7 linked regions of the Homo sapiens genome follow. The protein of the gene in region 1 purifies or fractionates together with the protein of each later gene. This does not show direct contact. Each region holds a gene or a part of one and is shown on either strand. Other genes may lie near its edges.

Region 1 (3,500 bases):
AAGCAAATCAGGAAGCCTGTTCTGGATGTGTTCTTTTCTCTCTGCCTGGATCTTACCAGTGGGAAAGGCAGAAAGGGAAGTCTACGCCAGGCACAGTGGCTCACGCCTGTAATCCCAGCACTTTGGGAGGCCAAGGTGGGAGGATTGCTTGAGCCCAGGAATTCGAGACCAGCCTGGGCAAAATGGTGAGACCCCCGACTCTACAAAAATATATATAAAAAATTAGCTGGGCATGGCGGTGCATGCCTGTAGTTCCAGCTACTCCGGAGGCTGAGGTGGGAGGATTGCTTAAGCCCAGGAGGTCGAGGCTTCAGTGAGTGAAGATCGTGCCATTGCACTCCAGCCTGGGCAACAGAGCAAGACCCTGTCTCAAAAAGAAAGGGAAGTCTAGACTGGCCTTCGGGGGGAATGTGTCCTTCATTCACACACAGGGTGCCATCTCCAACCCTCTCCCAGGGGGTGGAGGTGCTGGGTCTGAATGCCCATGGTCCCTTGGAAGCAGGGCCTGGCTCACAGCCTTGGGTCACGAGGAAGAAAGAGGCGGAAGAACCATCCCCTACTTGAGTTCTGGCTCTTTCTCTGACTCTGCTGCCTTCTGGCTGGGAGACCATGGCAAGCTCCTCACTGCCTCAGTCTTCTCATCTGTACATTGGAGATAATTCTCCTAGTACCCACCTCAATACAGGAAGTGAAGGCGTTTTTTTTTGTTGTTTTGTTTTGTTTAGATGGAGTCTCGCTGTGTCGCCCAGGCTGGAGTGTAGTGGCGAGATCTCAGCTCACCACAACCTCTGCCTCCTGGGTTCAAGCGATTCTCCTGCCTTAGCTTCCCCAGTAGCTCGGATTACAGGTGCACACAACCACACCTGGCTAATTTTTGTATTTTTAGTAGAGATGTGCTTTCACCATGTTGGCCAGGCTGATCTCGAACTCCTGACCTCATGATCCGCCCACCTTGGCCTCCCAAAGTGCTGAGATTACAGGCATGAGCCATCATGCCTGGCTGGGAAGTAAAGATTAAAAGGAATAATATGTATACAGGGCTCTTATGGGTGCCAGACACAGGGCGTGCTCATGTCATCCAGCATCCGTGCTCATGTCACACAGGGCATGTTATATCATCCGGCAACAGCTGGAATCTGATTCTTGTGCAGTGACTCCAACCACCAAGAAAAGTAGCCTTCTGGGGGTCTGATGCCTCCCTAGCAATTCCACCTCCCAACACAGAATGAGAAGGAGAGGAGGCCAGAGAGTTGTGGCGCTTTGCATACCAGAGGCACCAGGGCCTGGAGAGCTCATCTAGAATCTCAAAACATCGAAAAATCCCTTCTCGACCTCCTTCCATTACTAACAGGAAAACTGACCCCCCGGCAGCAGAAGAGATTGTCTAAGTCAGCTGGATAATGAGAAGAAAGAGAAATGTATTGCTGACTTCCTGTGTGCCAGGCACCCCACCAAACGCTTGGCATACATTATTTCATCTGATCCTCCCAGTAGCCCAGTGACTCTTGTTCCAACATTACTTTCATTTTACAGATGAGGGTCTCAGGAGTCAGAATGTTTACCCAGCTAAGAAACAGGGAAGAGTCAAGATCTTTTTCAGGCTGCTCCATTTCACAGCCTATGGCTCTTAAATCCACCAGGCAAACTTGCTCCTTGCTTTATAATGTCATGAAATTATTCAGCCCCACCACCACCCCCAGAATCCTCAAACAACCCTATGGAGTAGATGCTACCATTCCTCTGGAGTAGGCCTTACTCTGTGGGTAAGAAGACTGGGTCTCAGAAGCAATGCAGTGTAGTAGATAAGAAGCTGGGCATTTGGGGAGGCCAAGGGGGCAAATCGCTTGAGTCCAGGAGTTCGAGACCAGCCTGGGCGACATGCCAAAACCCAGTCACTACAAAAAATACAAAAATTAGCCAGGCATGGTGGCGCAGGCCTGTAGTCCTAGCTACTTGGGAGACTGAGGTGGGAGGATTGCTTGAGCCAAGATCATGCCACTGCAGCCCAGCCTGGGCAACGGGAGTGAAACCCTGTGTAAAAAAAAAAAAAGAGTCTGGGCTCTGAGGGCTGCAAACTGCGAGACCTGAGACAAATGACTAATGAGGAGAAAGACAAATGTGTTGCTGACTTCCTGTGTGCCAGGCACCCCACCAAACCCTTGGCATACATTATTTCATCTGATCCTCCCAGTAGCCCAGTGACTCATATTCTGCCATTGCTTTCATTTTAGAGATGAAGGTCTTAGGAGTCAGAACATTTACCTAGCTAAGAAACAGGGAAGTGTCAAGATCTTTTTCAGGCTGCCCCATTTCTCCATCCCATGTCTCGAGATCCTCCAGACATCTCAGTTTTCTCACCTGTAAAGTGTGGGTATTAGTACTACCCACAACCCATCCCTCAGCGGGTGGTGAGCATTCAGTGAGACAGTGCATGTGAAGTGCCGCAGGGGTTGCCTGGCTCATGGCAGTGGGCCTCAGGGTGACGGGGCTCTGTGTTCTGCAGGTGGGCTCCTTCGGGAATGGCACGGTTCTCAGGAGCACCAGAGAGGTGGAGCTGGTGGCGTTTCTGAGCTGTTTCCACAGCTTCCAGGAGGCAGCCAAGCATCACAAAGATGTTCTGAGGCTGATATGGAAAACCATGTGGCAAAGCCAGGACCTGCTGGACCTCGGGCTCGAGGACCTGAGGATGGAGCAGAGAGTCCCCGATGCTCTCGTCTTCACCATCCAGACCAGGGGGACTGCGGAGCCCATCACGGTCACCATTGTGCCTGCCTACAGAGCCCTGGGTAAGGGGAGGGGAAGCTCACCCGACTCACACACTTGCCCACCCCAGGAGACTTCCCAGTGTCTCACCTTTACTCATGGCCACGTGCACACACCCACATTTATTCATTTCATCTGTGTCCTATGCTTGGGGCTGGGTTATTGCAGTGCACAGGATTAACTCAACTCTGGCTATCATATTGCTCAACTTGGAATACAGAAATTGACCAAAGAATTGCAGAGATAAATACATGATTGCAGCCTGGGCGCGGTGGCTCACGCCTGTAATCCCAGCACTTTGGGAGGCCAAGGCAGGTGGATCATGAGGTCAGGAGTTGAAGACCAGCCTGGCCAAGATGGTGAAATACCATCTCTACTAAAAATACAAAAAATTAGCTGGGTGTGGTGGTGGGCGCCTGTAATCCCAGCTACTCAGGAGGGTGAGGCAGAGAATCACTTGAACCCAGGAGGCGGAGGTTGCAGTGAGTCAAGATCGCGCCATTGCACTCCAGCCTGGGCAACAGAGCAAGACTCCGTCTCAAAAAAACAAAAAACAAAAAAACAAACAAAAAAACATGATTGCAAATGGTGTAAATGCTCAGAGAAAAAGAATGGGGTGGCCTGGGTAACCACAGAAAGGGTGCTCAGGAAGTGACTTTCTGGGGAAACAACATTCAGGAGGCTCTGACACCCAGTGAGGGGAAGGAGCTAAAAGTGGGAGTGGGGGTCTGTCACTG
Region 2 (3,500 bases), on another chromosome or scaffold:
GCAAAATTTCTGTTCATTGATAAAAAGGTTAAGGGTTAAAAGGAGTAGGCAGTGACTAGGAGCTTTATTTTAAGACCAGCATTCCCTGAATTGGCAGTTTCTTTGTCTCCACTGGTTCCATTATTGTCTGTGATGACTAGGGGTCATTTACAGAGGTAGGGTTTTTAAAAGGAGAGCCTTTCTGATGCCACTTTTCTGCTTGACAGGCCGGACAGTGGCTGTGGATTGGGCCGTGGCAAAGGATAAATATAAAGATACACAGTCTGTTTCTGCTATAGGTAAGATGTGGTAGTGTTGGGTGAGTAGGGGCGTTGTATAACCTGGGTGAGAGTATTGAAACAACTCCTGTGTTCATGATAAAAGTGTAAGAAAAAGGCTGGGTGCAGTGGCTCTTGCCTGTAATTCCAGCACTTTGGGTGGATTGCTTGCAGTCAGGAGTTTGAGACCAGCCTGGCCAACATGCAAAACCCCATCTCTACTAAAAATACAAAAATTAGCTGGGCTTGGTGGTGGGCGCCTGTCATCCCACCTGCTTGGGAGGCTGAGGCAGGTTCTTGAACCTGGGAGGCAGAGGTTGCAGTGAGCCGAGATCACCCCACTGCACTCCAGCCTGGGCAACAAAACGAGACTTCGTCTCAAAAAAAAAGTGTAAGAGAACCTGCTTATCAGAGTAAGACTATTGTGGAAGATTAACCAAAAGAATGAGACTGGGCTTTCAGGGAAAACTCTGAATTCCTGCTGGCTCAGAAGTGAGTCCAGGTCTGTTTGTCAATTCATATTGTACCATTTGGTGCTCTGGTCCCAAAACCTAGGCTCTTTTGAGTCTAAGCCCCTTCCTGGGAGTGGCTGTGAGTGAGCCTGAGTTCACTGTCCCCTTTACTTGCTGTTGTTTCCAGGCTGTGCATAATAGGAGTGATGGAACATTAAGAATAGAGAAACTTAAAACTTGAGGTTTATTTAGAAAACAATTGGCTGGTAAGCCACCAGGGTCTCAGAGAATAGAACGCACTGAGATTAAAGTTCATGGCTTGGCTTTGCCCCCTAGTGAGCATTTTGCTGGCTATGATGTACGAATGGTAGACTGCTTGGAGAGGCTCAGTTGCCACTTCTTTCAGTCTGGGCCAGATGAACCTTCAGACTGATGAATGGGACAAACTCTAAAGGAATCTGGGTGTTGAGAGTTTTGTTTATTTCTGTTTTTGCTTTTTCTTTTCTTTATACTTTCTCCTGTTATATGCAGTAAGAAAAATATACGAAATTCTGTAAAACCGATGAAACCAAGAACTTGGAGTATTGGTTACTTTTGTTAAAATAACATTGTTTTGGATATTAAATGAATTCCTCCTTTCTTTACCTCCCTCCATAGGTGAGGAAAAGAGCCATGAATCTAAACATCAGGAATCAGTTAAAAAGAAGGGCAGAGAGGAAGAGGATATGGAAGAGGAAGAAAACGATGATGATGACGATGATGATGATGAAGAAGATGGGGTTTTTGATGATGAAGATGAAGAGGAAGAGAATATAGAATCAAAGGTGACCAAGCCTGTGCAAATTCAGAAGAGGTAAGCAGCTCATCCTGTTCTGAGACAGCAGAGGAAGATTCAAGATTGTCTCCGAGAGGAAAAATTCTCCTTTTTCTGCCTGCATCATTGCAGAATTGACATGTGTAATGAAATTGAATAGGCCCTCTGTCAGCCCACCTCCTTAGTTCTGATCTGTGCCATTGCAGAGCAGTCAAGAGACCAGCCCCTGCAAAAAGCAGTGATCATTCTGAGGAGGACAGTGACCTAGAGGAAAGCGATAGTATTGATGATGGAGAGGAACTGGCTCAGAGTGATACCAGCACTGAGGAGCAAGAGGATAAAGGTTTGTTTGGATTTTCATAAATGTCTTTAGACTTTAAAAAAGTTACTGAAGTTACGGAAATGAGCATCAGTTCTGCTTAGATCTCTTTTTAAATAGGACTCTAAGGTGTTCTATCAAATTTATGTTTAAATGCTGAAAAGGAAACCTTTATACTCCTTTCTTCCAAAGGTTTTTTTGTTGTTTCCTTTTTGTTTGTTTTGTTTTTTAAGTGAGTTTTGGAGTGGTGTTTGAGGGTTAAGATTCTTAGGGAATTGAAAACCTAGCTTAATGCTGAGGTTCTACCTCTCTCTGGATTGTCCAACTTGATAGAATAACCAGGTAAACAGCATCTTATACAGATAATATAGATGAAACAGATGATATAACCATCTCAACATCAAGCTAGATTTTAAACAACTCCTTGGAGTTGAGATGGGGATAAAGAACTGTTTAGTCAGTTTGGACTGACATAACAAAATACCATAAACTGGGTGGCTTAAACAGCAGAAACTTATTTTCTCACAGCTCTAGAGGCTAGAAGTCCCAGGTGCCAGCTGATTCATTTTGGGTGCAGCTCTCTTCCTAGCTTGCAGACTGCTGCCTTCTCGCTATGTGCTTGCATGGCCTTTTCTTTGTGGCTTGACGAGGGGAGAGAGAGAACAAGTAACAGTGAACTCTGGTCTCTCTTTTCTTATAAGCACAGCAATCCTATCAGATTAGGGCCCAACCTTAAGACCTCATTTAGCTAGCCTCAGTTACCTCCCTAAAGTCTCTGTCTCCAAATACAATTATATTTGGGGTTAGGGCTTCAATGTATGAATTTTGGGGGAACACAGTGCGTTCCATAACAAGGACCTCTTTGAACATGTTGTAAAACTTTAGCCAATCCTTATTGCTACCTTTATTGAGAATAAATTCAACTTGTTTATTGAGGAAGGCAGGTCATTACAGAATGAGAAATGGCTAATAACTGGTTCTTTGATTTGTCTGGGTGGAGATTTTTATTTCAGCTGTTTTTATTCTGATTCCATTTCAGTAAGTCTGACATGTTGGTTTGACCATATAAGAAATCTGAGGAAATAAGCTTTTTCTGTGAGGAGAGAATGGTATACACCTTAGAATCAAAGAAGCTTCTACACTGAAGGGACTCTGAGATCCTGTATTCTACAACCCACAGTCAGCTGTCTCATGCCATTCTTTCACCTAAAAAACTTATAGGACAGATAAATGATAATGATAAAAAGTTAAAACACAACACAGAAGAGTGTAATACACAAAGTAGAAGTTTCTCACCAATCCTAACAATTCCCTGAAGTAATCACTGTTGTTTCTTGTGCATCCTTCCAGATATTTTCTTTGTATGTATAAGCTTATATGTCTGTTCTTGAAAACAAACAGTGAGTCTCCCTTATACCCAGATCCTCAGCTTCTTAGGGAACTTCCCCAGAGACAACCAAGGTTATTTGTTTCTTGTGTATCTATAGATATTTTAATACATTTATAAGCAAAATGCACACATATACACACACATATACACATTCAAAATGTAGTGTATTTTATAATTTGTGTGTGATTGTATGTGTATGTTTTTTCCTCAAAGTTTCCTATGTCCTATACAGTATTTCCAGAAAGTTTACACTGTCATAGTAGTATAT
Region 3 (3,500 bases), on another chromosome or scaffold:
CTTACATATAACCTATATAGGCACATCCTCCTGTATATTTTAAATCATCTCTCGATTACTTATAATATCTCATACAACATAGGTCTTATGTAAATTGTTACACCGTATTGTTTAGGGAATAATGACAAGAAAAGTCTGTACAGTGTTTAGTACAGATACAGTTTTTTTTTTTTTACCCCCCCGAATATTGTCGATCCACAGATGCAGAACCCACGGTTACAGAAGGGTGACTGTATAATGTGAAACACATAAGTAATTTAAAATTTACTAGGAGTCACATTTTTTAAAAGTTAAAAACTAGTGAGATATTTTATGTTCTTTTTTTTTTTTTTACTAAATTTTCAAAATCTGGTGTGTTTTAAACTTGCAGCACATGTCATTTTAGAGTAACTACATTTTAAGTGTTCAGTAGACACGTGCTTTGGGTTTCTGGAACAGTGGTCAGGAAACTCAGGATGATGTTCTGTGGCAGTCATATAGATGGAAGAGTGAGGAACTACAGGAAAGGGGAATGGAGATAATAACTTAGAACATTTACTGAGCATTTAAGATGTGTCATGCACTGTGTTAAGTGCTTTATGTTGATGAAATCGGTTGTCACAACCACCCTGGGGTAAGTACCATTATTCCCATGTTACAGATGAGAAAACTCAGCCTCACAGAGCATAGACAGCTTCCCTAAAATTACACAACTGAAATGGTAGTGTATGGATTCCAGGCTAGTTCTGTGTGTTGTTAAGCATTCTGCTACACTGCTTTGGTATGTGCAGCAGAGTCCTGGAAGTAAGTCCGTGGAAGGCAGAAACAAGGTTTATATGAGCCGTTGTGGCCAGAGATTGACATTTGGATGTATACCACAGTTCCTGTCAGGTTGTGAATCTACAAGTCCAGAATTCAAAACGACTTGGATAAGTCATCCATCTGGGGCTGTGAACAGACCACTGCCCATGCAATAATAAATAGACCCTTAATGTGGGGATTAGGGGCATTGGTCCCCTGTGCAGTCGAAAATCCATGTATAATTTTGAACTCCCCCCAAACTTAAACGCTAATAGCCTATTATTGGCTGGATGCCTTACAGATAACATAAGCAGTCTATTAGCACATATTTTGTATTATATACTTTATTCTTACAGTAACATAAGCTAGAGAAAAAATGTTATTAAGAAAATTGTAAGGAACAGAAAATATATTTACTATTCATTAAATGGAAGTGGATCATCATAAATGTGTTCATCTTCATCTTGACTTTCAGTAGGCTGAGTAGAAAGAGGAGGGGTTGGTCTTGCTGTCTCAGGGTGGCTGAGGTGGAAGAAATTCTGTGTATAAGTGGACCCCTACCTTCAAATTTGTGTTAAAGGGTCAACTGTATATCCATTACCCCCAAAAAGATACCCTGGGTTTTTTTTGTTGTCCCTCCCTCCCTCCCTCAGTTCTTGTTCCTCCTCAGGCAACCACTGATAGGCTTTCTATCACTATAGATTAATTTGCATTTTCTTGCTTTCTTTTTTTTTTTTTTTTTGAGACGGAGTCTCGCTCTGTCACCCAGGCTGGAGTGCAGTGGCCCAATCTCGGCTCACTGCAACCTCCGCCTCCTGGGTTCAAGTGATTCTCCTGCCTCAGCTTCCCGAATAGCTGGGATTACAGGCACTTGCCACCACATCTGGCTAATTTTTGTATTTTTAGCAGAGACGGGGTTTCACTATGTTGGTCAGGCTGGTCGCAAACTCCTGCCCTCATGACCTGCCTGCTTCGGCCTCCCAAAGTGCTGGGATTACAGGTGTGAGCCACTGTCCCCGGCCTAATTTGCGTTTTCTAGAATTTTATATAATGAAATCATATAATATGTACTGGAGGGGGTGGTATCTGAGTCTTTGACTCAGCATAATTTGAGATTACGCCATGTTATTACAATTACTAGCAGTTCATTCCTTTTTAGTGATGAATAGTATTCCAATGTGTGGGTAGAGCAGTTTGTTCATCTATTGATGGACATTTGTGCTTTTTCTTGTTTTTGGCTATTACAAATATAGTTATTGTAAATACTATTGTACCAGTCTTTGTATGGATATGTGCTTTAATTTCTATTGGATAAATACCTAGGTGTGGAATGGCTAGGTCTTGTGGTAAATGTAACTTTTAAAGAGTTTTCCAAAGTGATTATACCATTTTACGTTGTCACTAGGTGGTATGAGTTCAAGTTGGTCCATATTCTTGTCAATAACTAGGTATGCTCAGTCTTTAATTTTATTTTAGACTTTTAAAATTTTACTATTATTTCCTTGTCATTTGAATTTGCATTTCCCTAGTGACTAGCAATGTAGAGCATTTTAGCATATGCTTATTTGTCTGTTTGATTATTTTGCCCATTTTTAAAATAGGGATGTTCTGTTGTAGAGTTTTGGGAGTTCATTGTGTATTCTAGATACATGTCCTTTATCAGATGTGAGATTTGCAAATTTTTCTCCCAGTTTGTGGCTTATCTTTTCGTTCTCTTAACAGTGTTTTTCAAAGAGCAGAAAGTCTTTATTTTGATGAAATCCAAATTAGCCTTGTCTTTTATGAATTTATGCTTTTGGTGCCGTTGGTGTTTTATCTAAGAACCTTTTGCCTAATTCAAGATCACAAAGATTTCTCCTGTGTTTTGTTCTAGAAGTGTTAATAGTCTTAGGTTTTATGTTTTGGTCTCTGATCCTTATTGAGTTAACTTTTATTTAGAGTGAGAAGTATGGATCAAAGTTTGTGGGTTTTTCTGCATATGGCTAATTATTTCAGCACCATTTGTAGAAAAACTATTCTTTCTCCACTGAGTTGACTTTGCATCTTTGTTGAAAGTCTGTGACCATATAGGTGTGGGTCTTTCTCTGGAGTCTTTTTGTTTTCCATTGATCTGTTTGTCTAGTCTTTATGTCAGTTTCTTATTCTCTTGGTTATAATAGCTTTATAATAAGTCTTAAAATCAGGTAGTATGAGTCCTCTAACTTTGTTCTTTTTAAAAGTTATTTTGACTGTTGTAGGCCTTTGCCCTTCCATATGGATTTTAGAATCCGTTATATCAGTTTCTACAAAAAAAGTAAGCTGATATCTGGATTGGGATTCTGTTGATTACAGAGCAAATTGAGGATAGATGACGTCTTAACAATATTTAATTTTCCAGTCTATGAATATGGTATCTCTCCATTTCTTTAGATCTTTAACTTTTCTTAGCAATGTTTTAAAATTTTCAGTATATAGATTTTTCACATCTTATGTTAGATTTATCCTTAAGCATTTTATATTTTTGATTCTATTGTAAATGGTAATTTAAAATTTTTTATTTCCGATTGTTTGTCGCCAATAAGTAGAAATATGATGGATTTTTGTATATTGATCTTGTGTCCTGCAACTTAGTTCCACCAAGTAGTTTTCTGAGGATTCCATGGTATTTTCTGCAAAGATGATCATTATCCAGTCTTGGATGCCTTTTGTTTTTCTTGTTGTATTGCAGTGGCTAACACCTT
Region 4 (3,500 bases), on another chromosome or scaffold:
AAACTAGCTTATAGTTTAACTTAACTTGTTGTGTATGTGAATTTAGGGATGGAAACTTTTTTTCCCCTATTTATTCTTTGTTTCCTTCTGGGAAAAAACCCCACAAAAATCAGCACTCCTTTATGGATACATTGGAGCTTTTGAAAGAATTGTAAACTCTAGGAAGGGGAAATATCTGTGTCTTGATTTCTTAGTTGCCTTGAAAATCATGTACTGAACTGTAACCGCTAACTTGACTGGATGAACTAGTTTGCTTGTGTGTAGAGAGTGTATTGCTTCCTCAGATTTCACTGTTTTCATCTCCTTTTCCATCTTAGTCTTTATTCCTTAAGACCAAAAACTGTAATATCCTTTAGAAATGCTCTAGAAGATCTGTATTGTGTAGAATGATCATGTATTTATAAATATTTTACAAGTTTAGATTATAAAATGAAAAAGAAGGTCATGTGTTTTGGGGGGTATTTTGCATGTTCGGATTTTTTTTTCACTTCACCGAACCCTTCTGATTCTTTCAAACTATTGCCAGGTAGTTGTTAGTGTTTCTAATTGGACTCTTAATATGAACTTCAAGAAGCTGTTACCAGTTATCGGCTCTGTCATCTGAAATTTTAACCACTTAATTTAAAGTTACAATTTTAGAATTTGTTTTTGTTGTTTTACCTTAAGAAACACAATAAATCACTGTTTAAAAAAGATCTCAATTTATATAAAGTACTGGAAAAAAGCTAAGTAATTTTTAGTTCTATCTATAATCTCCGTAGGATGAATTAGAAATAAATTGTGATGAAAAGAAATTAACTGCTTATTTATGAATCTAATCATTTAGAAATGTCTGAGAGTAACACTGCATTCTTATAGAAACAAAGCACAAATTGCATTCAAGCTCTGAATTGATTTTTTGCTTGGAGCTGTTGTTACAGTAGCTGTAATTTTGCTACCAGAATGTCTTAATTTTTTAAATTTGTTTTTATTTCTAAGCTCTTGGCAATGACAATAATTATAATTTTAACATATCTTCACTGTAGTCAACATGTAGAGTCTGCTTCCCTCATTATTGCATTGCTAAGGCCTTTTTAAAAAGCTTATGCTTACATAATATACTCTTTTTTATGGACACGTTATATGTTTCCAAATCTGTGTATTGTGATTTTTACATACTAATGAATATAAACAGGTGATTTTAAAATATTACTGTGCTTCTTTGGTTGAATGAGCTGGTATTGATGTAAAATACTCTGTCATTGATGGACCACTACCTGCAGCTAAGCAGTGAGCAGAATCTCCGGGAAATGACTTAGTCTGGCCACATGCATAGCCCATCTTCATAATGTCGCAGCAGAAGGTTCTTTGTGGTTAAAAGTTTTAAAGCCTATTTCTTTATAGGTAACCCTCTCAGGTATATTTACCTGGTAGAAAAACATGTAGATTGTTTCTATTACTTAAATGTTTTAATTGGACTGTAGTTTAGAAATTACAGGACCAGCTTGTTACAGATTATACACTATTCTGTTACTTTTATTTCTGAAACTTAAAAACAATAAATTCTTTTTCTGTGTTTCTAGGTTAGAACTTTTTTATTTTATTGCACACTGAACAGATACTGTTGCTTATTGAATATTGTGTAAACCCTTCTTTGGCTTTCCTTGCCCATTGCAATTTGATTTAAGCCTACTAGAGCCATTGTATGTGACAGCTATATTGTATTACAAAGTAAAAATATATGAGTGTATTGAAAACAAAGTTGTTTTAACTTTTAATTTTGTTTCATCACCCAGTCTTTAATTTGAATTTATAAATTACAAAAAGCTACTTTGATCAACTGAATGTAGGTATCCAAGCTCAAATTCTTTTAAACCTACAAAATAGGTAAAATTATTATACAATTAAAGTTATTAATAAAACTGACTTAAGAGAGCAGAATGTGACCGAACACTTACACATTCTCAGCAGTTCTGTTATTCTTGTTTGGTCTCACCTAAAGTTTTTATCGTATTTTAGAATCGAACCTTTTGGATCTCTGTCAGAAATGAATGTTTATTTCTTTCAAGTTTTATCAAGTATTAATACGTTTTATTTATATTCTTTTAAATGTTTTATTCAGTAGTTCTGTGAACTTCAGACTTTGTTGTTCAGCCTAATCGTATGCTTCTGTAACTTCTACACATTTTATAAGAACTCATTCAAAGTTGTAGTCCTACCATAGTGTTTCAGGGTTCCTTGTTGTGTACACTTTTACTATAATGGCAAAATGTTTCAAAATCATTCAGCTTTTTAAAGAAACTTATTATGCAAAAGACACTCTTGAAATGCTGTGCATTTGAGCTGAAGTGAAAGAATTTGTTTCATGTTGTACTTTGCATTATTTTAAGTTTTCACATCTTTAATATGCTTTTCTATGCTAATTATATTAGAAATCTATAAATATAAGTGGTTTCTTTGTTTAAACTAGTCATTAAAAATTAGGTTGAAAATGAAAGTGGATTATTTTAGCAAATCGTCCCTTCTAGATGGATTTCATTTCAGTTTGCTATTCTGTGCCTCTCCTGTGAGCATCATCCACTGTAACAGTGTTGTTTGTGAAACCTTCCGAGTATAGTGTAACAAACTAGGTTTTTTCCCTCACATAAATAATATAAAGAAACACTTAGTTGGTGTTTTAGTTAAACTATAATTAGTTTATTGTCCAAAATCAGGGAGTGTTTTATGGAGGGGCATTTCATTATTGATCATAATCATGCCATTTCCAGCAAGATGAGATTGTCCACTTAAATTAAAATCTTCCTTTTCAAATATAATTCACGCTGAATACATTTCAACTCATATGCCTCCTTTTGTGGAGTTTAATATGATGATAGCAGGTTTTTATAGCCACAGGCTTCTTTTAAGTATTTATTTTTTAACAATATGACTTAGTATAGGTTATATTGGGATGGGGCTGGTGGAAGTGGGGGGGTGGTGGCTGGTCTCCCTGAGAATCTGAGAATCAACCTTTCACCTATTTATTCTTATCTCTCCTATACCTCATGTTTTCCAATCCATATAGTTATCATCAAGGTGGCTATTTGCAGCAGCTTTTTTTTTTTTTTTAGAATAAGGTATTCATTTTTGTTAGGAGATCAATACAAGTACAATTTTGTAAATTCCTCTTAGGAGAATATGGAGAAAGAAATAATGCATGTACATACACACCCACATTTAGGAATATAGTTGTCTCTTGGTATCTGCAGGAAGGATTGGTTCTAGGACCCCCAAAGATACCAAAGTTCATGGACGCTCAAGTCCCTTATATAAAATGTTGTAGTATTTACATATAACCTACACACATCCTCCCTTATACTTTAAATCATGTCTAGATGCCTTATAATACCTAATATAATGTAAATGCTATATAAATAATGGTTATACCATATTGCTTTTTTGTGGTTTTTTTTCAATTCTTTTTTAATATTTTTGATATTTGGATGCATAGCCCATGGATATGGAGGGCCCAACTGTGTGTT
Region 5 (3,426 bases), on another chromosome or scaffold:
TTGGACAAATGATTCCCCTATCTGTGCCTCAACTCCCCATCTGTAAAGTGAGACAATAATTGATAGCACCCCAACTTTGGTGACTATGGAAGGAACAGAAATGAGACCAAAGTGTGTGGCACCTGGCAGGCTGTGGGTACCTACTATGCCTGACTGATGACGGCTGAAGGTGCACGACCATTTTCATGGTCAGTAAAAATAGCCGATGTGTACTAAGCTTATACCATCGGCATTCAATCACTTCCTCTTTCTGATGGCCTTCCAGTAGGTTTGGAAACAGGCCTAGAGGCTGGGAATGACAGTTTCATATGTAATTAGGAAGCCTGGTGGTTGGCAGCGACCCCTGCCCGTTCTGAGGCTTTGGGGATGGCCGGGTATGGGTGACAGCTCAAGGGCCCTGAGGCTCAAACTGGAATCAATTCAGCCAACTTCCCAGCCATCTGGCCTAGGGCAAGGATCCGTTCTCTGAGCCTCAGTTACCCCATCTGCTGACCTCTACAAAAATCATTGGCCTCTGTAGAGATCAGCTGTCTCTGGCCATCATGGCAACCCTGCTGGGTGGTAGCGGCATTACCGTTTTGACTAATGACATGACTTAGGCTCAGGGAAGGCCCCGCCTGGGCAATATCACAGCAGGTCCCCACTCTCCCTTCCCACGCAGATCCTCGCTGCTGACGATAAGGAGCTGAACCGGTGGTGCTCCCTAAAGAAGACCTGCATGTACAGGTGATGGGGCGGGGCGCGGCGGGGCCACATGCGCAGGGGGCAGGGCGGGCAGCCTCGGGCACTTCCCAGAGCACCCAACACAGGGGCATCTGTCTGCAGGTCAGAGCAGGAGGAGCTGCGGGACAAGCGGGCGTACAGCCAGAAGGCCCAGAACTCATGGAAAAAGCGGCAGGTCTTCAAGTCACTCTGCCGAGAAGAGTAAGCAGTGCTGGCTGGGGAAGCGTGGGTGGGGAGCCTGTCAGGCCCAGGCTTGAGTCTTGGCTCCGTCAACCTCTTGTTGCATGACTTTGGGAATGCAGCGCCCCCCGCTCTGAGACCTGGGTTCGAATCCTATATGGGCACCAACGTTGTGTGACCTTGGGCAAGTCGCTACCCCTCTCTGGGCCTCTTTCTCATAAGATGGAGATAGAGACGGTTCTGCCTTATCAAGTTGCAGAGGATGAAATGAGTTAATTCTCGTAAAGTGATTAAGATATGGTAAATGCCCCATAGGTCTTAGCTGTTATTAGGATTGCTTTCGCCCAGTCTAGAAGGCAGGGGTGATAGATGCACACAGTTTATTTAGAGCTAAAATGAGGCCAGGTGTGTGCTCCAACCTATAATCCCAGCACTTTGGGAGACTCAAGCGAGAAGATCGCTTGAGCCCAGGAGTTGGAGGCTGCAGTGACCTATGGTAACGCGACTGCACTCCAGCCTGGGCGACACAGCAAGACCTTGTCTCTAAGGAAGAAAAAGGCTAAAATGAGTTAATTGATGTGACTAGCTTAGGGCAGGCCCAGGCACAAATACCAGAATCCTCAGCCTCACAATCTAGTCTTTGGGTTCCGTAGAAAAGCGCTGGCTTTGGCCTGAAACCCAGGTCTGAATCCCAGGCAGGCCCTCGGTCGCTGTGCGGCTGCTTCACTATGCCCCTCCTTTCCCTGTCTGTAAAATGGGGCATGCGTGCTCAAGAATGGGCCTGATCTTGACAGGCCTGGGCTGAGCCCTGACTTTTCTCCCTCAGGGCAGAGACACCTGCGGAAGCCACAGGGAAGCCACAGAGAGATGAAGCCGGCCCACAGAGGCAGCTGCCAGCCCTTGATGGCAGCTTGATGGGGCCGGAGAGTCCCCCAGCACAGGAAGAGGAAGCCCCTGTATCACCCCACAAGAAGCCAGCCCCCCAGAAGCGGAGGAGGGCCAAGAAGGCACGGCTGCTGGGCCCCACTGTGATGCTTGGTGGATGCGAGTTCAGCCGCCAGAGACTGCAGGCCTTTGGCCTCAACCCCAAACGGCTGCACTTCCGCCAGCTGGGCCGGCAGCGGAGGAAACAACAGGGGCCCAAGAACAGCTCCTGAGCACCAGGGAGCAGGCAGGGGCCTCAGGCTCCTCTCCTCAAATCAAGCCCTGGACAGGTCTCGCACCCACAAGTACTATCTGCTGCAGAGATCCTCTCATCTGTGGCCAGGCACGCCTGTAATCCCAGCACTTTGGGAGGCCGAGGTGAAAGGATCACTTGAGCCCAGGAATTGGAGACCAGCGTGGGCAACTTAGCGAGACTCCATCTCTACAAAATGTGGTGACACATGCCTGTAGTCCCAGCTACTCAGGAGGCTGGGGAAGGAAGATCACTTAAGGCCATGAGTTTGAGGCTACAGAGAGCTATGATTGCACCACTGCACTCCAGCCTGGGCAACAAAGCAAGACCCTGTCTCTTGAAAAAAAAAAAAAAATTAAAAAACACGTGTAGCTGTGGGTAAGGAAGTCGTCCCATTTTATGGATGTGGAAACTGAGGCTGACTTAAACTTCCCGTGACTTGGAGCTCTCACCTCGAGACACCTCCCAGACCCCACATCCCCTCAGAACGCTGCGCCCAGCCACACCCACGATCAAGTTACACAGCTTTATTGGCCCCCAGCAGCCACAGTTCCCCCAAGGGGGCTTTGGGACAGGGAGGGCCCGGGCGTCCAGTGCAAACTACAGTACGTGAGTCAGGCCCTGAGGGGGGTGCCCGGGGTCCTCCTTCCCTACCCTGCCAGGAGGGCCCCGCTGGTGGGAGACAGGTGTATGGGCTCTGTGGGCTCTGTCCCTGGCTGAATGGCCCCAGACTGGTTGCAGCTGGGCTTGAGGGGCTGACAACAGGAAGTACCATCATCACTGCCAGAGCTCAAGATCCCACACCCGACATGACATAAATAAAAAAATAAATAGTGTTGTATCTTTCCCCTCATCCCCTCCCTTTATAAAAACACAAAGTCCTCAGAGCTGGGGCGTTTGGCCCTGAGGAGCCGCCCTGTGCGAGGGAGCCGGAGTGTGGGCTGGGCGAGCTGGGAGCAGAGGTCGTCCAGGCTGTGGTCCTGAGCATGGCCCTCGGCCAGGGTGAACATGGGGTACCGCTCTGTGGCTGAGGAGGAGCTGAGGACCTGGCGGGAAGAGGGAGACAGGGTCAGCCACAAACAGTGCCAAGCCATATTCCTTAGCCCAGGTTTATTTAGTAGGTGCTTCTCAGGACCACCTCTCCAGGAGAGAGCAGCCAATCAGCACCTTCCATCCCCTGGCCACAGTGATTGGCTCAGCCATGAGCATGTGACCCAGCTCAGCCAAAGACTGACAGTCCTGGGATTTTTGCTGCAAAACCTGCGTTTCCCTTCCAGTGACCACAGGGTGGGTGCCCAGAATGGCTGGTGGCCATCTCTCGCCCCCATAAGGGTAGAGTCCTGGTC
Region 6 (3,500 bases), on another chromosome or scaffold:
TATTAGAGATCAACTCATAATTATGCAAACTGGCTAACAAAGGGAGGAAGATCAAACATTAATCTGCCCTTCCTGAACAAACTATACCTCTTGGTAACTGAACAGTTGATGAGGCAAAGTTACTTCTTGAAGAGGTATTCCACCTAATAAATGAAGACCGACTGACAGAATTAGTATATTGTCATTTTGCAATCCTAACGAACACTGCTGGCAGCTTATAGCACAAGAGAGACAATCAAATGAAATGTTATGTGCCACCTGAGAGAAAATACATCATTATGATAAAGTATTCTTGACAAGGAGGGGAAAAAACTTCAAAACCTGAATCTGATCAGGCCTCTAGATCACAATTTACAAAAAACTTGGAGTACAGATGAACATGTTAAAATGACATCCCTGTGCCCTGTGGAAAATCCTACAGGATGTACAACTTAGTCTATTCAAATAATAAACGGCAAAGAAAAAGAAAAATAGAGGCAAGAGGAGACTTAATAAGACAATACACAGGTCTTGTTAGTTTTTTGTAGAGACAGGGTCCTGCTATGTTACCCAGGCTAATCTTGAACTCCTGGGCTCACATGACCCTCCCCTTGGCCTCCCAAAGTGCAGGGATTATAGGTGTGAGCCACTGCACCCAGCCTATAGGTATTATTTGGATTCTGATTCTCACAAACTATATATATATATAAAATATATATATAATATATAAATACATAAAATATATATATAATATATAAATATATAAAATATATATAATATATATACTATATATAAATATATAAAATATATATATAATATATATACTATATATAAATATATAATATATAAATATATAATATATATAAAAATATATATAATATATAAATATATAATATATATAAAAATATATAATATATAAATATATAATATGTATAAAAATATATATAATATATAAATATATAATATATAAATATAAATATATAATAAATATATAATATATAAATATATATAAATGTATATTTTATATATAAATGTATATAAAATATATATAAATATATATAAAATATATATATAAATATATATATGGCGCCAATTGGGATGAATCTGAACTAAATATTTGATGATATTAAGGAACTGTTAATATGTTAAACTGTTAATTTAGGTATGATAATGATACTGTGGCTATTTTCTTTTAACAAGTCTATCTTTTAGAAATCTATACTGAAATATTTGTGAACAAAATGCTAGGTTTTCTAGGATTTTCTTCAATGTAGTATGTGAGAATAAACAGATGAGGGTACAGATGGAATAAGATTAGCCATAAACTGATACCTGCCGAAGCTGATGATGGGCTCATTATACTACTCTACTTTTGTTAAGTGTCTGACATTTTCCATAATGAGCAAGAGAGGGAGAGAAAGGAAGGAAGGAGGGAGAGGAGGAGACTAGCCAAGCCTTGAGACTTCAGCAGAAGTCATCAGATGATGACTCTTCCAGGGCTTTCTGCCTTGGCCCAAACTCCAGCTCCCTAAGGACCTTTCTTTCCCCTGCATCCCAGCTCCAGGGAGGAAGACATACCGCAAAGATGAGTGAAATGTCAGTGGTAAGGGCCTGCACTCGGTGGAAGGAAGCAATAAGGGTGATGGGTAGGAAACCATCAGCATCCATTTTCCTTCGCAGGAAGAAGTCTCGCTCTAAATTGTCCACGCTGAAGTAGTATTCACTAAGTGGAGGGAAGAAGTAGTTATCACCGAGGGATTGGTGCATCAGTTTTATGAGTATGCCTTCCTTGTTCTGCTACACACCCCAGCAATCTCACACAGCCTCTGACCTACCCCATCCTTATCCTATATACCAACAGTGTTGAGGGCTGAAAAGAAATGATGTGATCCCTTCATGACACCCTACCTTGCTTGGGTCAAATCACTCCCTCTGCCCTAAGCCCCTCGACATGCCTGTCAAACTCCTCATCCTCCTTTAAATTCCAGTCCAAATATTGTTGGTCACTTTCTCTTCTGCTCCTAAAACACTTATAAACACTCTATTGCAACCATTTATTTTCTTGTATGACTTCCTTACTGGACTGAGAGACAATATATCAGAGTGGTTAAGAACAAAGGTTCTATAATAGGACAGAAAAGGATTTAAATCTGTGCTTTGTTACTTACTAGCTGTGAGATTCTGTGCAAATTACTGGGCCGGTTTGCTTGTCTATAAACTGGGGCTAAAAGACTCAGCTCATAGGAATTCAACAGATAAGAACTGCAGGACTAAGATAATGCCTCTACAACAATAAACACTGAGCCTGGCCGATACTAAGGATTCAATAAATGTTAGTATTCTGTCAATGTTGTCATTACAAATGGAAGAACAGAAGGGGGTAGATTCTAAATATTTTCCTTCCTTTTTGTAATGGTATAGTTTCTAACTTTCTTAAGGTAAATGTTGTACCACTTCTGTAATAAACAATGAGAATGTGGTATCACTTCTTTAATAAACAATGAGAAAAGCTATCTTTTCAGCCTGAGGCTGAAACTGCTGCTAAGCACCAGAAGGGCCTGCCCAGCTATGACACTCTAGCAACCCCTAACCTCTCACTCATTTCTCCAGGGTAAGAAGGCTTCCGCACACTCACATCTGGCGCTTGATGTAGTCTTTGAGCAGTTCCTGATCCACACTGTAAAGCTCGGTGCTGCTGACATTGTCAAAGTAGTAGGTGATGTTGTTCATGTACTTGGGCGTACGAGGCCCCTCCACACCATCAAACTTTCGGTAGCCAAACTGGTAGTCAAAATGGGCTATGGGGGAAACGGGTGCCATGAGGGAGAGGAGATTCCTGCCCACCACCCCTGCTGCACACCCTTGGACATCCCGGAGCCCAAAGGGGCCTCACGTACTTCGAGTGCCACCCCGGCCGCGTCCCCGGCCGCGACCACGCCCCCGTCCACGGCCACGGAAGGAAGCCCGCGCCCCACCAGCCCCATCACTCTTCACACTCGATGTCTCATCCTGGTCGTGCCAGGCAGGCTCCGGTTTGATCTCTGGTTGCCAGGCTGGGGTGGGGGGGGCCACGGGCACGTAGGTGGCAGACTCAGACCCTATGGGGAGAGGGGTACCAGGTCAGGCCTGAGGGTGTCTCCCAAGTCCAGGCCCTCCATAGTGGGTAGTGCATACCTTTGATCTCTCCGCGATTGGCAGGTATGTGTCTAGGCTCCGGTGGGCGAGTGGGGCGTGAAGCCAGTTTCTCTCTGGGCACTTCAGGCTTCATGTCTATTTGTAATGGAACCCACTTGTGTTTGTTTCCTGGGAGACAGCATGGGTACATGAGAAAGGCTTGAGGGAGAGGCCACTCCTAGCCAGCTCTACCCAACTCCTCTTCTTCTGCCCTGGACTTGGGCCCAAATCACAATCTGGTTACCTTGGGCAGATCCCTTTCCCACACATTAGCCCTCTTTTTCATCTCTAAAATAAGCTGGTCAGTGGCCGTCAGTGTGTTAGAGACTCCTCGTTAACTCCCAAGA
Region 7 (3,500 bases), on another chromosome or scaffold:
TAGGTGTTACTTATTTATTAAGTAACTGAAATTTAAAACATGGGTAGTGTCAAAAGTTATTTAACATACAAAATTGACAAATGTAATGTCATATTAAAAACCAAATAAGCTGTTTTCTAAAAATTTTATAAACTATTATGCAAACATTTTTATTTGCTCTATGCAGTTATTTTATGAAAGGGAAAGTATAAGTACCGAGTGACTGAAATACATGTTCTAGTTAGGCTTGTATTTCTTTAAAATATTTCTCTACAATAAATTTTCACTGTAGGTTATTTGAATAAGTATGTGGATAACAATGGTTCTTTTTTACTTTCTTCATTGTAACGTTCGGGAAAGGCTAACTTTGTTAGTAGCTCAGCAGGAAGTAAAGTGGAAGTGGTTAAAAATATTTCTCTTTGGGATAAGATTATTGATTGTTATTCTTACTCCACAAGGTTAGGTCCCTGAAAAGTATTTCAGAAAATGTCTTTCCTTGATCTTCTTATTCTGCACAGTGATGCAAATCTGATAGGAAAGTGACCTCAAGGGAATAGATCCGTTCTCTCCAATCTTGATGTCTTATGAGAACTGGCTGCCATTATCCAGCTGTGGCAGAGAGCAACAAATAGCTCAGCAGAGCACAGAATGGAGAAGTTTTACGCTCTTCTGAGTTTAGTTTTTAAATCCTTTTTTCTTAGTATGTTTGTAACCAGAAAATCAGGGTTTATTAAAAATCAGTACTGCTGTTTTAATTATTTAATCAAGAGAGGACTTTGAATTAAACTTTTGGCATGTTAAAATATGTTGATAACATTCTTGCTATTACCTTTTAAATACCTTTTATATTCTAACATAAAGATGGTTTAAATATTACAGAAATCCTTTGATGCTCTGAATTTTGTTACAATGTTAAAAATGGTATGGATTTCCAAAGCTAGTGCCATACAGCGGAAAGGCAGGTAATGTATATTTAATGTATATTCATTCAATTGCCTGTAAAATGGAAACGTTTTTATATGCATTACACATTTATCATATATTCCATGTTCAATAAAATAGTAGTTTTCATGTTAAAATTTTTATATTATTTTTGCAAAGCAAGCCATTTTGATACTTCCTTAAAAGTTGAATGTAGGTTATGTTAAAATTAAAAACTTTTGCCTAGTTAAATGTACATTCAGATGTAAGAAGCTTAAAAAACAAAACCAAAAATTCTAAACATATGCAATGTAGGACAAAGAGCTAATTTCCTTATTATATAAAGAAGCTCTTTGAAATCAACTAAAGGCCAATAATCCAGTTAAAATGGATAAAGGGCACAAATAGGCAATTTACCAAAATAAAAAATATGCATGTCCTACTAATACATTAACCTCACATATACTACCTAATATGTATCTAAATAAATGCAAATTAATGAGGTATTATTTTTTGAATCTCAGATGGGCATTGATGAAAATGTTTAACAGTATGTACAACATAGAGGAAAAACATGGGCCAATAGTCTTTCATATTTTACTGATGGGAGTATAGATTGGTGTGACTTCTTCAGAGTGCAATTTGAAACTATTTATCCAAATCTACTCTTTGACCATAGATTCCACTTGTCATAATTTATCCTGAGTATGCTTGCACACGTGTGCAAAGATGTATGTTTAAGACTGTTCTTTGAAGCATTGTTTATAATAATGTAAAGTCTGGGAACAGTGTGATGTCCATCAATACTGAAGTGATTAAATAAATTATAGCCACACAGTGGCTTTCTGGGTAGCTGTTAAAAGGAAAAATGTAGATCTGTGTGTTCTTATATGGAATGAGTTTTCAGGATGCATTGTTAATTGAAAGGATACAGAACATGCATCTAGTAGTCTTTTGTGGTAAGAAAAATATATGTGTGTTTGTGTATGTATTTTGACACAAATGCATCGAGAAGTCTGGGAGAAACATTAAAAAACAATGAATGATTGTTAACTCTGAGAAGGAGGATTTGTGGGGTTCTTGGAGTAAGGAGACAATTTTATTTTTTTTGTAATTTGGTTATTTTACTAAGTGTTTGGGTTACTTTTTAATTTTCAAAAGATAACATTAAAAAGTATCATTTTCAGTAAATATTTATCTTGCATTTTATTATAATTAGCAGGAAAACATGAAATGCTGACTTTCAAAGAATGCCTCATATACTGAAGACTCATGTGCATTATTTCTTTACTTTGTAACTTCATAGAATGCCCATGAGGGCTTTGTTGTTGTTATGTCAGTTGTTTTCTTATGACCAATAGTGGCTTGATACATTAAGCTGGATGTCCCTGCTATTAATAGTATATTATTGTGGGTAAGGCTGGGTGTAGTGGCTTATGCTTGTAATCCCAGCACTTTGGGAGCCTGAGGTGGAAGGATCACTTGAGTCTAAGAGTCTGAGACTAGCCTGGGCATCATAGTGAGACCTTGTCTCTACAAAAAATTAAAAAATCAGCTAGGTGTGGTGGCACAGGCCTGTGGGCCTAGCTACTTGGGAGGCTAAGGTGGGAGGATCATCTGATCCTGGGAGGTCGAGGCTGCAGCTGCCGTGAGCTGTGATCATACCACTCTACTCCAGCCGGAGCGACAGAGCCAGACACTGTCTCAAAAAAAATAAAATAACAAATAGTATATTATTGGAGATGAAGGCCAGAACTGCAAAAATTTTCATTGCCATTTTTCAACAAATGTTTATCAAAAGTCTTCCCTGTGCACATGTTACGGATAGTGATAAATAAACCATAGCCTGATAGGTAAAGCTGGAGGTAGGGCAAATGTTGCAGTCCATGTGGGAGTCCAGTAAATTAAGCAATTTTAATACAGTGTTATTTGTGCTACAACTGGATGTTTCCAGAGTTGTTAAGAATGAATCTGAGACAATTGTGAATAAAGGGGGAGGCATTTCTAAAAGGCAGAGGGAAAGTATAACCAGGTATACTTATTTGCCTAAAGGCAAGAGTGAATAGGGAGGATGTTTGGATAGAATTTAGTTTAGAGAATAGTGAAAAATGAGCTGAAAGTTGGGGACAAGTTTTTAAGGACCATTTTGAGTTTTCTCTCTTTTTTAAAAAAATAAACAGTGGGATGACATGAGTATAGTATTCTTTCAGCTCTCTGAAGAATGGATTGGCAGGAACAAAAATGATGGTAGGAGGACCCAGTAGGAGGCTTCTTCATTAATACTTTCCTATAATAAGGGAGAGATGAAAGTAGTCTGGATTGTTTTAGTGGTGGTGGAAATAAAAATAAATAGATAATTAATTCAAGAGATACTAAAGAAAGTAATGTTGGTGATTGATTGTGTATGTAGGGGGTGAGGGGTAAGGAAGAGAGTGGAGTTAAGGATGTCATCCAGGTTTCTGTCTTAAAAAATCGGACAGTAGTGCCATAGTCAGATAGGGAAAATTGGAAGAGTGTTTTCACTGGAGAGAATAATTAATTTTTGGTTATTTTGAGTTTGAGTTGCCTGTAGAAAATCGAAGTGGATTGGGAGGCTGAGG

The links.
Region 2: the proteins of OASL (region 1) and RBM28 purify together in Homo sapiens (affinity purification with mass spectrometry; 2 studies listed by BioGRID and IntAct, with this or other methods). This does not show direct contact.
Region 3: the proteins of OASL (region 1) and DDX24 purify together in Homo sapiens (affinity purification with mass spectrometry; 2 studies listed by BioGRID and IntAct, with this or other methods). This does not show direct contact.
Region 4: the proteins of OASL (region 1) and STAU2 purify together in Homo sapiens (affinity purification with mass spectrometry; 2 studies listed by BioGRID and IntAct, with this or other methods). This does not show direct contact.
Region 5: the proteins of OASL (region 1) and KRI1 purify together in Homo sapiens (affinity purification with mass spectrometry; 2 studies listed by BioGRID and IntAct, with this or other methods). This does not show direct contact.
Region 6: the proteins of OASL (region 1) and LARP1 purify together in Homo sapiens (affinity purification with mass spectrometry; 2 studies listed by BioGRID and IntAct, with this or other methods). This does not show direct contact.
Region 7: the proteins of OASL (region 1) and YTHDC2 purify together in Homo sapiens (affinity purification with mass spectrometry; 2 studies listed by BioGRID and IntAct, with this or other methods). This does not show direct contact.

What each region holds. Positions count from the first base shown.
Region 1 is NC_000012.12:121,032,747-121,036,246, reverse strand, and holds part of OASL (2'-5'-oligoadenylate synthase-like protein), read left to right. Parts: intron 1-2,503; coding exon 2,504-2,786; intron 2,787-3,500.
Region 2 is NC_000007.14:128,333,909-128,337,408, reverse strand, and holds part of RBM28 (RNA-binding protein 28), read left to right. Parts: intron 1-206; coding exon 207-278; intron 279-1,366; coding exon 1,367-1,562; intron 1,563-1,729; coding exon 1,730-1,866; intron 1,867-3,500. UniProt on the Homo sapiens protein: Nucleolar component of the spliceosomal ribonucleoprotein complexes.
Region 3 is NC_000014.9:94,074,703-94,078,202, reverse strand, and holds part of DDX24 (ATP-dependent RNA helicase DDX24), read left to right. Parts: intron 1-3,500. UniProt on the Homo sapiens protein: ATP-dependent RNA helicase that plays a role in various aspects of RNA metabolism including pre-mRNA splicing and is thereby involved in different biological processes such as cell cycle regulation or innate immunity.
Region 4 is NC_000008.11:73,547,841-73,551,340, reverse strand, and holds part of STAU2 (double-stranded RNA-binding protein Staufen homolog 2), read left to right. Parts: exon of another isoform or gene 1-1,740; intron 1,741-3,500. UniProt on the Homo sapiens protein: RNA-binding protein required for the microtubule-dependent transport of neuronal RNA from the cell body to the dendrite.
Region 5 is NC_000019.10:10,552,585-10,556,010, reverse strand, and holds the end of KRI1 (protein KRI1 homolog), read left to right. Parts: intron 1-661; coding exon 662-726; intron 727-825; coding exon 826-924; intron 925-1,729; coding exon 1,730-2,060; 3' UTR 2,061-2,926; downstream 2,927-3,426. Other genes in the region: cysteine protease ATG4D isoform 1 precursor, read right to left, coding at 2,944-3,126.
Region 6 is NC_000005.10:154,793,377-154,796,876, reverse strand, and holds part of LARP1 (la-related protein 1), read right to left. Parts: intron 3,283-3,500; coding exon 3,154-3,282; intron 3,078-3,153; coding exon 2,877-3,077; intron 2,778-2,876; coding exon 2,615-2,777; intron 1,703-2,614; coding exon 1,558-1,702; intron 1-1,557. UniProt on the Homo sapiens protein: RNA-binding protein that regulates the translation of specific target mRNA species downstream of the mTORC1 complex, in function of growth signals and nutrient availability.
Region 7 is NC_000005.10:113,555,194-113,558,693, forward strand, and holds part of YTHDC2 (3'-5' RNA helicase YTHDC2), read left to right. Parts: intron 1-858; coding exon 859-941; intron 942-3,500. UniProt on the Homo sapiens protein: 3'-5' RNA helicase that plays a key role in the male and female germline by promoting transition from mitotic to meiotic divisions in stem cells.